Linked DNA regions of Homo sapiens. The protein of the gene in region 1 purifies or fractionates together with the protein of each later gene. This does not show direct contact. Each region holds a gene or a part of one and is shown on either strand. Other genes may lie near its edges.

Region 1 (7,626 bases):
GCAGAGACCTCGAAAGAAATCCTGGGTTCTTGGAGAGGCTGATGTTGGGTGAGCTGGGGCAGGTCCAGGGCTTCTCAGCTAACAGGCATTTAATTCCTTCTAATGTGCTCAGAGTGGCTGTGGCTGCAGGCAGGTGCCTGAGGCTGGGGTTAGACAGAGCCCCTTCTTTCTGACCAGAACCCAGCCCAGCAGCTTCTTCCTCCAGTCCAACAGACAACACCCCAAAGCAGGCAGAGTTGACCTCCCAGTAACCATTACCAAGCTAAAGTCTTCCTAGCAAAACAAATTCATCACCCCTATCCACACCACTCCATCTGCACACACATAGGCATCTATATTAACTCACAGCAACCCTCACCCAAACGAATATATGCATGAACCCACATACTCCTTCACACATCCACACACATGCACACACACACTCCTGTGCATCTTCCTCATGTATGCACACATATGCATCTTTCTACATGCATAGCCACATGTGTACACCATCCCACACATTCATTCATGCATACACAAAACTCCATATGCACAAACACATTCATTGACTTCACAATACACATCTGCACATGTGTGCCAAACACACATGCATCCTCCCATGCACATGAATACATCCTTGCATACGTGGCCCCACAAATATCTGCACACATGCACACATGCCCTCCAAAGCATGTGCAGGAGTACAGATGCGTGCACACACACATACACACACACACATGCACACACTGCTCTGCGGTACTTGATGCCCCTGACCCACATCAGGCACATACCTCTTTCAGTTTTGGCTGGTCATTGAAGGGACAGTTGTCCAAGTTGGGCTGGGACTTGGTGCATGTGGTTCGACCGAACTTCACATTGAAGTAGTAGTTCACCCCACCCACGATCTACACGCGTGGAAGAGCAGGAAGCAGGGGCAGCATGCTGTCAGTTTCATGCACACGCAGGCACTTCACTGTGACTGAGTCACTGGGCTTGCCTGGGGCTTCATGCCCACACTGTCACCCAAAAGGCACACAAGCCACCTTCTCCTGCTGGCTGGCAGTGGTAGTGTGTCCCAGTCCTTCCTAGTAACTTGTTTTCTCTGGGTATCTCAAGCAAGCTGTCTCATGCAGCCCAGTAGAAAGAGAAGCAGGGGCAGGGCAGATGGAAGCCAGGGCCTAAAACCCCCTTCACTGGATTCAGGAACAGAAGGCACAGCTCTGGGGAACCAGCCAGGGTGGGACAAAGAAACAGTCCTGGCACCAGGCTTGCAGGGCAGGGTCTAAGCACCAAGTGAATGCTCTTTCCCACAGCAAAGGATTAACTGAATTCTGCTACCTGTGCTCAGGGGGCAGGGACACTGGTCCCATCCTAGGAAGGCTGCCACCTGATGATGAAATTTCAGCTAACTTCCAGCTCCTGGCATTCAGTCCACAGAGCATCTCATTCCTGCCATTTAACCCAGAGGTATTTTTCCTCATTTCTCAGTAGGAGATGAGATGCTCACATACATTGATGTTTTAGGCCAATAAACATTGCCTCCTGCATGCCTCCATTCCAGGTGTGATTTTCAAGGCAATATTTCTAAAGTGAGTCACACACCTGCATGTCTTAGGGTTGCAACTTCAGAAGAGAACTGAATGCTTTCCCTGCACAGTGCCGCCCCAAAACATGACTTGTCAGAACTGTGGAGAAGCATGGGATGAGGGACCCTGGGACCAGGGTGCTAGACCTTGCCCTGTGGAACCACACACAAGTCCTGTAGAACCACATGGAAGTCCTGTGATCCCTCCGGTGTCAGTCTGCTGCTCTGTAAAATAGGCTCCAGGGCCCAACGATCTACATCATTCTGTGCTTCACTCCCAGTGAGTGACACACTTAAGAGGGAGTGCAGGCCAGCAGGGACCACAGCACCAGGGAATGCCCCTCCTGTGCAGGGAGAGGGCTGCAGGAGGAGAAACAGGGCTGGTCTGGACTCCTCTGACTTTCCAAGAGAAGGTGGAGGAGCTCTAAAGGCTGGCAGGCCATATAGCCCTGTGGTCGCTGTGTCACTGCTGCTCTGCCATGGGACGTAGGTCAAGCTGGGCTCGGTAGCCCTGCTGAAGCTTCCTCCCTCTGGACCCAACCACCTCCTTCACTCTGCTGGGTGATTGCTGTCCTCATTTTGCTGAGGTCTAACTCTGCGTTAGCTGGCAGAGGCAGGGTCAGGCATGCTCTACCCCAGCAGGAACTCAGCTGTCCTGGGCTGTAGGGGGTGGTCAGCCAGCCTGAGAGTGAAGGCCACTAGCCATAACGGGCTGTGCCCAGGGGCGTGACTTGGGAGGGAAGCGGGGCTATCCAGGACAAGGAGTCAGGTTCCCGTGTGGCCCCTGTGGAGAGGACTCAGGGAGGAAGATGAACCTCGTGGCCTGGATCTCATCCTGAGCAGCATCAAGCCCACCCAGAGTCAGCACAGTCTCCATCCACACCTGCTGGACCCTGGGAAATGCCACAGTCATGGTACAGACACAGTGGCTGCTGCAGGTTAAAAGAGGCCGAGGGGACAGGACAGGGCTGAACTCATGCACTCACGGCCAAGGAGTGTCCTAGGGCATGAAGACCATCAGCAGACAGTCAGAGAAAGCTGAATGAGTCTGCGGTTTAGATAATGTTGATTTGCTGGGAGTGCTCTGGGGGGTGAGGCAAAAAACCCAGCTGGGACTCAGGACCCCCAGGGTGGTGGTAGCACGCACCTGCTGGTAGGCAGCCATCACCTGCAGAGGGCGGCTGTAGTACTCATCCTTATTAATGACCTTGTTGTACTCGCTGATGGCAAAGTCCAGGGCACACTGCACACTCTTGTCATTGAGGTCTGTGGCATGGATGCCACCTGCCAAGGTCCTAGATTGGGCCGAGGCACTCCCGGCCACGGCCACCATCAAGGCAGTCAGCAGCAGCAGTGGGGTGTGCATGGGCCACATCATGTTCTACTGGGACACAGAGCAAGGAGCTGGATCTCCCAGAGAGCAAAGCAGCAGAAGGCTGAGGCAGGAAGCCCAGGCCAGAAGCTAGCTGTGCATTTATCCTACTTGGGTGTCCCCCAACCCCACCTGCTCCCTGGCCCCGCCCCTGGCTCCTCCTCCTCTTTCTACCCCTCCTCTTCTGTCTCTATCTCCCTTTCCACCCCCAACCACCTCCCTCCCTCCCTAAGTTCCCTTCGCTCCTCCCATGCCTCCTCCTCATCCTCCTCCCCACTCCTGTCCTGACCGCAACCTCCCCACAGCCCTGCCCCTCTTCCTCAGTGCTCTAAAGCTTGGCTCACTCTGGATTCCAGAGAGGTGACACCGCTCCCTGGGCTGTGAAACCTGGTGACCACCTATGTCCACAGGAAAGGGAGAAATACAGGGCTTGGCCTTCTAAAGTCTTCAGATGTCAGGGGCATCCAGGAGCACGTGGTCATGGTCTGGGAATTCCTGGGGCAGGGAGCTGTTTCAGAAGCTCCGGGATGACCTTGTCCATGCCCTCTTCTGGGGAACTTCTTTGCCAAACATAAAGTAATTAACCTTTGGGTAAAGTTCACTGGGTTCTCGTTTCATAACTCCTCATTATTCAATAAACAAACCTGTCACCAGCTTCCCCCTGCACCAAGCAGTCTGGGCAATAGAGCCGTAGACATGAACTTGCAGAGCTGCCATCCAACAGAGATGTGACAGAAACCCAGGAGCAATTTAAAACACATTTGAAAAAGTTAAAAGATACAGCTGAAAGTAATTTTGGTATTTCTACTTTAACCTAATATATCCAAAATACTTCAACACTTCAGGACTATTCTTAAGGAGCTAGTTTACATTCTTTTGTGTGAGTGTAATGTCTTGAAGTTCCCTGTGTATTTTTTACAGTTAGACCAAGCGTCACTGTGGACTAGCCCCATTTCAAGTGCCCTGTGGCCACGAGTGGCTGCTGGTGGCTGTGGTACTGCATAGCCCAGCCATTAGGGTGTGTGGGAGGATGCAGAGTGGTGATCAACAATTTAGATCAGGGAATTATAGTCGCTCAGTTAGAGAGAGGGTGGGTGCTACTGGACCCTGGTCAGGGAAGTCTCTAAGAGACCGGAAAGGTTGAGAAGCCCCAGGCAGCAGGGAATAGTCAGTGCAAAGGCCCTGAGGCAAGGCTGGGCATGCCTGCTCCAGGAAGAGGAAGCTCCTGGAGGGGGTGTGAGCAGGGAAGGGAACGACCTGGAGTCTCACGGTAACTGTGGGTGTGTCCAGGTGGAAGGCGCAGGGAGACCCCTGGCAGGTGGTGGGGGTGTCAGGAGAAGGAGCAGCAGCCACAGGATGAATGTGGGAGCCCAAGAGCCTCTCTTGCTCCTCCCCTCTGGGAGACGTGCTGCCAGCACTGGTCCTCTGTACACTGCTTGGAAAACTCATGTAATATTTTAAAAATTACATTGAATGAGGTAGAATTTACACACAATAAAATGCCTAATTGTATGTGCCCAATCTGGGGGATTTCATAAATGCATACACTTGTGTTACCACTTTGTCCACACCTGTGATATCTGCCTCACCCCAGATGGTTTCCTCCTGCCTCTGAAGCCCACCCTCATGCCCACCCGACCCTGGCAGCCCACATCTGGTCCTGTGGACTCCTTTGTTGCCTGTCCTTGAGCTTCCCAGGAATGGAATCCTGCAGAGAGAGCCCAGGTGTGTCTTCGTCCTTTGCTCAGCGTGGCTTCATTGCCAGGATTGAGAGTTCTCCTTCTCCACAGACTGAGAGGATGTGGTCAGTTGGGTGCCCTGTGGGCTGACAAAGCCCCCAGCTCGGGATGCTGTGGGCCTGGACTGGAATGTGACTTCAGGAGTAGGGAGGGTGGAAGGAGGCTCTGAACAGACAGCTGCTCCCTTTGTTCTCTCAACCCCCCCTCCATGCCTGAAGGTGATCCTGCGGCAAATGCCCTTATGGCGAGGTGGCAGGCTTGGCCAGAAACACCAGGAAACCCTGGGCCTTAGCAGGACACCCAGAGGACTCTCCTGGGAGTGGTGGAGGTGAGGGTCGGCCAGGATCAGCCCAGACCTGCTATAATCCTGGGGCTCCGCCATGGCTGGGGCTGCATCAGCAGGAACCCGACAGCGGGAACAATATTACTCATGGGTGCTCATGTTCAGTATGAGGACAGGGGACCTTTTTACCCAAGGCCCAGTGACCATTGCACCCCACTGTGAATCCAGCACCCCTAGAAAAGCCATGCACTCCAGCAGATACAGCAGGTGGCCCAGGGATAGTGTTTACTGCTGGGTGAGGGAGGGAAGGTCTTCAAGCAGGGCTGCACGTGATGCCTCCTAGTTAGACAGGAAATTGGGGGAGATTCCCAGAGAAGGGAAAGAGAGGGCAGTCCCTGGCCAGGTGCTTGTGGGCAGAATGGTCATCTCCCAAGTGTGGGAGTTGGGTCTCCTCTGTGGCTCCCACCTTCCCTGGCCGCTAGGTCTCAACTCTCAGGAGGATGTGTTGTGCAGAGGGTAAGCTGAAATACATACAAATCTCTCCTATCTTTTATCATTAGGAAGGAGATGCAGGTCATCCACATAACAGGCATATGGTGGTGGGTGGAGTATGGGGTGGGAGCTGGAGTGCTGGCCTATTTCCCTGTATGTGATGCCACCGCCAGTGGTCATCCTCTGTCAGGACACTGGAATGAGCTATAGGGAGGGTCAACAGGCCTGATACAGTGGCCACTCTAATCTTTGTAGTCAGACCCCCATGTAGGGCACTCTCAGGAACTACAAGAGATGCATCCAGTATGGGTGATGGTAAGTGGAAGGTTAGGGTAGATGGACAGCTGCTCCAGCTGCTGGGTGACCTTGGGAAAATGTTTTGCCTTCTCTATGTGTCATGCATATGGAAAGGTGAGCTGCTTTGTAAATGGTGGTGTCTGGTGGTTCAAAACCAGCAAGATAAGTTTGATTCTGCAGTGACATTTAAGTGTGGTTAAAATTTACAATAGCCCAGTGTTATGGCATGCCTGTACACCTACTCTTGAGGCTGAGGCAGGAGGATCTCTTGAACCCAGGTGTTCCAGACCACACTGTGCAACACAGTGAGATCCCATCTCAAAAAAAGATGGAGACTTAGTTCCTATAGCTTACAGCTCCAATGACAGGCTGGCAGGGACCCAGAGATAAACAATGGACTCAGGACCAAGCCTGGGGCCTCCAGCACCTTCGTAATCTGGAGGAGTCCAGTTGCCCAGGAGGGGGCATGTTTCCTTTCTGCCAGTGGATGAAAGAGAAAGCCGTGTTCTCCCAGGTTGCGTGTGTAACTTGATCCCATGATTGAATTAGTAGAGTGAGAAATTAGGTGAGTGACAGAAGTTCTCTATAATAAATAAGCAGTAAAGGGAAACACTAAACAATATTATAACCAATAAATACCTAAGGGCATAAACATCACCTAAAGTGCAAGTGGTTAGATCAAGTTGGCCAAGAGTTGAGATTCTGCACATCCGGGTTTTGAGCAATTAACATTCAGTGTCTGTGATAGGAGATGGGACTGAGCAGCCACGGGATTTGTTGGCTTCTCAAAGGGGAAGCCCAGAATCCTCCTTTATGGAGTGCTGCGAGTTCTCTGGGGTCAAGCTTGTCCCTTATGCACACCCTTCCTCCTTCCCCCTCCCTGCTCCCAACTGTGGGGGACCTGAGATACTCCTGGACCATTGGCCACCATTGGTAAGCATCTGGGCTCTGATGGGGATGAGGCCACATTATTATGAACTCTGGTACTTGCTGTGAAGCATGCCCAAAGCCCCTACAGGAAAAGGGCGTACAGAGCCCAGGATCTGAGGTCTGAGAGTTTGGCCCTTTATGGAGGGAAAGAGAATCCTTGGGAAGTTTCCTGCTCAGGGATCAATGTGTAAACAGCACTTAGGATTTTAGATTGCAAGGTTACTATTTATTTTCTCAAGGAGTACATTCTTCCTAGCAGAGCCATGGCTAGAGAACCACAGCCGAGTGGAGAGGACAGGGAGAGTTCCTTGGGAACTCGGGTTGCTTGCTGATGCACCCAGGGACTTCCCCCAACTCCCTGGTCCCAGCCTGCAGGGGCCTGGCCCAGGAGAATACAGATGGCTCTGAGGGGAGAGCAATCCCCTTGGCATCTCTGTGTGGTGAGAGTTTCCTTTCTAATCCCCATTCAGGTCACTGCTGGGACTTCCCTGTCACTGTTTGTCTAACCTTAAATATCAATTCCTTTAGCAGACTGCAGTGGCTGTGGAGAGTGGTTCCTGTTCCTGCCTGGAATCCTGTTACACTCAATCAGTGGGTGCTGGAGCTGGAGCCAGAGGCCATCAGGACAGCCTGCCTGCTCTTGTGGCCCTGCCTGCCCTCTCCTCCTGTCACAGAGGAGCTGGATCCAGTGAAAAGACTCTCTAACGAAACTTTAAGGCTCCTCTGAGCCTTCTTCACTAGGCCTCAACCTTGGTCTCCAGCTCCTACCTGCCAGGTCTGCATTGCTCAGTTTTAGGAAAGAATCCTGCTTCCTTTTAGGGAGAATCCTGCTGTCCTTGGGGTCTGATCACCCTTGACATCTGATCAAGTTCCTCATCCCTCAGCTTTGATGTCTAAGGCTGTGTCCTGCCTTTAGCAAGAATCCTGTTTGGTCAGTTCAGCCAGAAAC
Region 2 (7,026 bases), on another chromosome or scaffold:
GGCTGCTCCTGCAACTGTGGAACCTGCCTCTGTGCTTGACAGCTCCTTGTGGGGACCGGTGGAGCTAGTGACATCATCTTTCTTGAGCTGTGGAGGCTGAGGCTCTCCTGGGCTTTCAGGCCCTAAGGCCAGTGGGTCCCCCTCCTCGGGGTCTGAAGTCAGGGACAGTCTTGTGGAGCTTTCTTGTAGTGGGCCATCTGGTGCTACTTCCCTGACACAGACCTTTCCTGATGGGTTGTCGGGCTTAGCTGCCATTGGGCTGGCAGCAAGTGACTCCTCACACTCAGAGTCCATGGATACAGGGCCTAGGGGCTCAGGTGGAATTGAAGTCGGGGGCCCTAGAACTCTGTGGGATGGGATGCAAGACAGTTCGGGTGGAAGGGAACCATCTTTTATCTCTGAGAGTGCCTCAGCTTCTGAGTCCCCTTTCCTTCTGTGTCCATCCTGGGAAGTGGTGAGGGCCTGAGGAGGCAACGGGACAGCTTCCTCGACCACCTGCTCTGAGGGCACCATGGGGGACTCTGGCCTCTCCCTATTCAGGGGTGCTTGAGGCTGCCCAGAACTGGCTGAGGCTGACTGCTCCTGGGAAGGTCTTCGTGGCCGCTCTTCTGCTTTTTCTTCTTCTTCTTCACTGCTGCTCTCTTCCTTCTCTTGCTCCTGTTGGTTTAACAGCTGAAGAGTCACCATCTATTCAAAAGCCAAGGAAGAGATGGTCACTGAAAGGAACACAGTAGCCACTCCTAATTCTTATTAACACTACTGGTCATGTAGTTTAAATGACTTTGCTTCTTTCCTGTTAAAAGAGGCTGACTATATCTGTCAAGTCACTCCAGGCATCCTAATTACTGAGGAACAGTCCTGAATAATTTTCTTTTTTTTTTCTTTGGAGACAGGGTCTTGCTCTGTTATCCAGGCTGGAGTGCAGTTGGGGGCAATCATGGCTCACTGTAGTCTTGAACTCCTGGGCTCAAGTGATTCTCCTGCCTCAGCCTCCCAAGTAGCTGGGACTACAGGCACGTGCCACCATACCCGGCTAATTTTTAAATTTTTAATTTTAGTAGAGACAAAGTCTCATTATGTTGCCCAAGCTGGTCTCAAGCTCCTGGCCTCAAGCAGTCCTCCCACCTTGGCCTCCCAAAATGCTGGGATTACAAGCATAAGCCACTGTGCCAGCTTTGAACAATTTTTTATTCATGATCCCTTAGAAGGTACTTAAGCAACAAAATGCCCAATACGATGAAACAAATGACAGCTGGCTGGCTGTACCTTGATCGTATTCATGATGGTTCCCAGAATGGTCCTGCCATTGTAAGATTCCTCCAGCTCAAACTCTCTCCGTAAGGACTGGAACACCTGGTTCATGATCTTCTTGACCTGTGTGAACATCAAAACACATGCTGTCAAAATCAAGTCACTAAAGGATGCATTAAATTCCAGAGAGGTGTATGGAAGGCCAAAATGAAGCCATCTTAGATCTCTACACTGGGATACTGCTGGTCATAAGCAGAGACACTGAAGGCTGTCACTGTGGAGAGGATGATATTAAATAATGAGCAGCACTTTGACAGAAGGGCTAGTCATGAGAGTTACCTATCAAGGGCAGGCAAGCTGTGGTCTGTGTGCCCAAGACTGCTTAAAGACCATTTCTTGATGTCCCCCTCCCACTGTGAGCACCACTAGGAGCTGCCATAGGCTCTAAGGGTCAGAGGCCAGTGGATGCTGGGCACACTCCCCAAGCCCCATTCTTCTTCTGTGGTTAGAGGCCCTTCCTATACCTGTCAAAACCTCAGAAAGATAGGGTTCTTTTGGGTTTGCCACTTAATATGTAAGTATGTATTTGTTTGTTTTCCCACTAGGCTGTAAGCTCCTTAAACTCAAGAACCAAATCTGGGCCGGGCATGGTGGCTCATGCCTGTAATCCCAGCACTTTGGGAGGCTGAGGCAGGCGGATCACAAGGTCAAGAGACCGAGACCATCCTGGCCAACATGGTGAAACCCTGTCTCTACTAAAAATACAAAAATTAGCTGGGTGTGGTGGCGCGTGCCTGTAGTCCCAGCTACTCAGGCGGCTGCGGCAGGAGAATCGCTTGAACCTGGGAGGCGGAGGTTGCAGTGAGCCAAGATCACATCACTGCACTCTAGCCTGGTGACAAAGTGAGACTCCGTCTCAAACAAACAAACACCAAATCTGGTTCATTTTAAAGTCATCAGACAAGTAAAACATCACTAAAGTTAGAAAAAGAGCTATTAACACAACATACTGGCCATGTTCTTTCTGAATGCTTGATATAAATGGCTTGCTTCTCATTTGAAATACCAGCTCACCTTCTCTGAGGGGTCAGATGCAGCAGCTTCAACCCCAGACATCTGGGACTTGTTCTTCTCTAGTTCCTTGATGTGCTGTTCATTTTGCTTGGTGAGAGCTGTGATTTGGGCCTGGAGGGCTAAACACTGCAAAACAAACAGACTGTGGCTGTGGCCTCAGGAACCAGGTGAAGGTCAGAAAACCCAAGGGGAGGAGAACCACCCAAACATCAAGTCTCTTTTTTTTTTTTTTGCATATAATAAAAAGACAATTTTATTTCAAATTCTTTTTTTTTATTATTATTATACTTTAAGTTCTAGGGCACATGTGCACAATGTGCAGGTTTGATGCATAGGTATACATGTGCCATGTTGGTGTGCTGCACCCATCAACTCATCATTTACATTAGGTATTTCTCCTAATGCTATCCCTCCCCCCGTCCCCCAACCCCCGACAGGCCCCGGTGTGTGATGTTCCCCGCCCTGTGTCCAAGTGTTCTCACTGATCAATTCCCACCTATGAGTGAGAACATGCAGTGTTTGGTTTTCTGTCCTTGTGATAGTTTGCTGGGAGTGATGGTTTCCAGCTTCAACCATGTCCCTGCAAAGGACATGAACTCATCCTTTTTTATGGCTGCATAGTATTCCATGGTGTATATGTGCCACATTTTCTTAATCCAGTCTATCACTGATGGACATTTGGGTTGGTTCCAAGTCTTTGCTATTGTGAATAGTGCCACAATAAACATACATGTGCATGTGTCTTTATAGTAGCATGATTTATAATCCTTTAGGTATATAACCAGTAATGGGATTGCTGGGTCAAATGGTAATTCTAGTTCTAGATCCTTAAGGAATCGCCACACTGTCTTCCACAATGGTTGAACTAATTTACACTCCCACCAACAGTGTAAAAGCGTTCCTATTTCTCCACATCCTCTCCAGAATCTCTAAACATCAAGTCTTAACCTCGCCTAGGTCTGCTGGTGTCCACTCCCTCAGCCCCCACCCACGACCCTCTGCCTCAGAGAGTTCTATCTCCTCATCATTCGACTTCAACGCAAAACTTCACTTTCTCTTTCCCAAGAAGGTTGCTTGCCTTGTTCCCAATCAGGTAAAAAATATAATGAAAAAAGAGCAGGAGGGTAGGTAATAACTAGTCATTTAGACATAAACATTCAGCATTAACAGCAACCCATTTGTCATTCATCTGCAAGATTGCCTCCAAGATCTCTGAGCCAAAAGTTTTCAACTGGACACTTTAAGGAAAGAAACTGACCTCGAATATGGACTTTCACACCATGACCCTAAGCCATGTCCCATCTCTCTTTTTCAGGCCTGATGATCCCACCACACCCCAGCCTCCATCCTATCTCAGTGCCTTTGCCCAGGATGTTCTGCCTCCTTTGCTGCCTTACCAAAGCTATTTGTCCTTCTTGGCTCTGCTCAAATGTCACCACCTTTGGGAAACCTTCCCAGCTCTCCTGGGTACTTCCTCTTCTGGGCCCCATAGCACTTAACACCTATCTTTGTTTCTTTGTCTCCCTTTCTTGACTGTGAGATACATGAGGGAAGGGTTCCTTGTATGCACTTCCTTTAACACACTGGATGGAATACAACTGACTCTCAATAAATATTTGCTTAATAAATGAAGGATCCAATAATAATGGGAAACATGTTCCGGAACACTAGTGCTGTTTTCTCTTTTTCCAGGTCACTGACCTATCACCCCACATAAGTATGTGAAAGATAACTGACAAGCTAAACAAGTGTGGTTTTGTCTTCTAGATATTAATAACTTTCAGGCTTAGAAGGATCGACAGGACTCAAACAGCCTGCTTGCCTCAAATTAACTGGGCTGCCTAAACTGTCTGACTCAAGAAAAATATGTACCTTTTCCTGAAGTTGTACCAGCTTCTGCTGGTAGGCATCTCTCTGTGCGCACACCTCCTGGTACTGCTGCAGGTGCTCATCCTTGGCGGAGGCCAACAAATGTTCACATTTTGCTTCCCACTGGGTCTGTAGCTCAGCCTGTACTAAAGACAGCTGCCAAGAGAAAGTAATGACCATATCATCCTTGGGGGTGGGGGAGTGAGATTCCATTGCACCTAGGGAAACCCATCTTTCAAAAAGCAAAAGAATAAGCTAACAGCCCAGATTTAACTGGGAAACTGTTTAAAAGACTCATTACTTTTAAAATAAATGCACTTCTTAAGATGTCATTGGTTGTCAGGACTCCAAAAGGTACTCCAAGCAGACAAAAGTGTGCCTATCTAGATAGGTCCCTGGAGGGCAGGGCCATGTGATCACTGCTTTTCAGGGTCTGAACCCTAAACTTTATAGGTTCAGAAACTTTTTTTCACCAAAATTCCCAGAGGTGGTCAAATTGAGGGCACCAATGCACTCTAATTAAACAAATGTATGCATATAAATTTTAAGCTTATAATGAGAAAGGTTGCTGTTGCACAGACTAGAGATCCAGCTGTGTCCTGCCACTATCCCTGGTTCCCTTCCTGATGACCTAAATCAATCCCTTCTTTTCAAGGATGATAATGTGCCTGAAGGATGGTGTCCAATGGTTGATGGTTTTGGCCTTACCATGTTTGGAATTTTTTTTGTAAGGAAACTATTTTTCATTTTTACTTATGTAATTAAATATTAACTAAGCTTTAAAAAAAGAAAGAAGATTCTCCATTTGATTCCTGGCTCTCCTGCACATATCTGGATTACTTTTTCTACCTTTCTCCAAAGTGAGAGTATCAGCTATGAGAAATGTCATCCTAAAGGGTAAGGAAGAAACCAGAAGCTTTTCTCTCTGAGTCCTTCACACCTTCCCTCTATTTTCAAAGTGCTTCAGTTTCCCATTACCTGCTCTGCAGCTGCTTGGTCTGTGGACACTCGAGTCTTTTTCAAGAGCTGTCGAAGTTTGTCCAATTCCTCCTGGTATGACTTGCGAATTTCATCTATCTCCTCCTCGGCCTGAGAACGCTCTTGAGCTGACTTCTTTTTCCTTTCTGAGAGGTTCTTAGGAACAAGAGAACCATCATCAGCTCTAGCTTGTTAACAGAGAATAAAGAGGGATGATGGCGGTGGCAGTTAATTACCTTGTGGAATCCTTACTCCATTTCTGAAAACTCCATTTTTTAGTTGAATTTTCCCCTAAATATTTAACATTCTTGGCTACTGGGTGAGGAAAATGGTGACAGGAGAAGGAAAACAAGAAGAGCTGTATCTACCCCTCTATTAAGAGCTAGGGAAATTGGGAGGCCGAGGCGGGCGGATCACGAGGTCAGGAGATCGAGACCATCCCGGCTAAAACGGTGAAACCCCGTCTCTACTAAAAAATACAAAAAATTAGCCGGGCGTAGTGGCGGGCGCCTGTAGTCCCAGCTACTTGGGAGGCTGAGGCAGGAGAATGGCATGAACCCGGGAGGCGGAGCTTGCAGTGAGCCGAGATCCCGCCACTGCACTCCATCCTGGGCGACAGAGCGAGACTCCGCCTCAGAAAAAAAAAAAAAAAAAAAAAAAAAAAAAAAAAAAAAGAGCTAGGGAACATCCTAACTTTAATAAAGGTACAGGAAATCAGACATTCTCATACCCTGATAGTAAGAAAACGAATGGATATACTCTCTTTGGATAGTAATCCTGTGAAAAGCCTTTAAAAACATACGTATCCAGAAATTCCACAAATTGTAATTAAGGATTCAATAAGTCATAGTCATAAAGAGTGTGTTACAAGGATGGTCACTGTAGTAGTATCTATAGTAATGACAAACTGAAAACAGCCAAGAGGTTAGAAGGAATTGGTTAAAAATAAATAAATAAAATGGAAAAAATCCTGGAAAAAAATGCAATTGCAGACCAAGATTTACCCTCTTAAAAGGCACTGGGCCAAAACAGCTTTACCTAATGAGATTTACTGAAGCCTCAGGAGCAGTTTATTATTTTCATATTTAAACGATTCCAGAACAGACAAAAAGATAGAAATGTTCTCACTTTGTTCACTTAGTATTTCCTGATATTAAAATTTTAACCAACAAAAGATACTATAAATAAAGTTAAAAGACAGCAAGCTAGAAAAATATTTACAACATCTATGACTGACAAAGGATTGATACCCTTAAAAGGGTTTACAAATCAAACTAATAATAGGAAAAAGGATAAAGGACACTAAAGAGAGAATGTACATAAGAAATACAAATAGGTATTAAATATATGAAAGCTTTACTACTAATAAAAATACACATTAAAACAAGATAACATATTTCACCTGTCAGACTAATGAAGATTAGAAAAAGTGATATATGTAGAGTGGGGAAGAATGTGACAAATGGGCTCACTCACATACTGCTGAAAGTGTAAGCACTATTCTTTGAGGATAACCTGGTAATATTTATAAAAATTCAAATATGTAGCCTTCCCTTTGATCCCATGATTCTTACTCATGCAATCCATCACGTAGGAATGCTCAAACAAATTTGCAAAAACAGTTATATAATATGAGAATGTCCATAGAAGCAGTGCTTAAAATAATGAAAAAATAAAAACATAAATATCCATCGATAGGCAAATCATTAAACAAATTATGGTACAGCCTCATAGTAGGCTACTATGCAGCAGTTAACTACGAGTGAGAAAGATCTCCTTCTTATGTAGTACAAGTCCATGACATTTTCCTAAAAAACATTAAACGTGATACCACTACTGTAAAAAAAGTTGTCA

Evidence for each region. Proteins that work in one complex are often made in the same cells at the same time.
Region 2: the proteins of CST5 (region 1) and FKBP15 purify together in Homo sapiens (co-immunoprecipitation; 2 studies listed by BioGRID and IntAct, with this or other methods). This does not show direct contact.

The regions. Positions count from the first base shown.
Region 1 is NC_000020.11:23,876,735-23,884,360, forward strand, and holds the start of CST5 (cystatin-D precursor), read right to left. Parts: upstream 3,015-7,626; 5' UTR 2,943-3,014; coding exon 2,712-2,942; intron 885-2,711; coding exon 771-884; intron 1-770.
Region 2 is NC_000009.12:113,169,256-113,176,281, forward strand, and holds part of FKBP15 (FK506-binding protein 15), read right to left. Parts: intron 5,329-7,026; coding exon 5,173-5,328; intron 4,351-5,172; coding exon 4,198-4,350; intron 2,452-4,197; coding exon 2,326-2,451; intron 1,375-2,325; coding exon 1,267-1,374; intron 688-1,266; coding exon 1-687. UniProt on the Homo sapiens protein: May be involved in the cytoskeletal organization of neuronal growth cones. Seems to be inactive as a PPIase. Involved in the transport of early endosomes at the level of transition between microfilament-based and microtubule-based movement.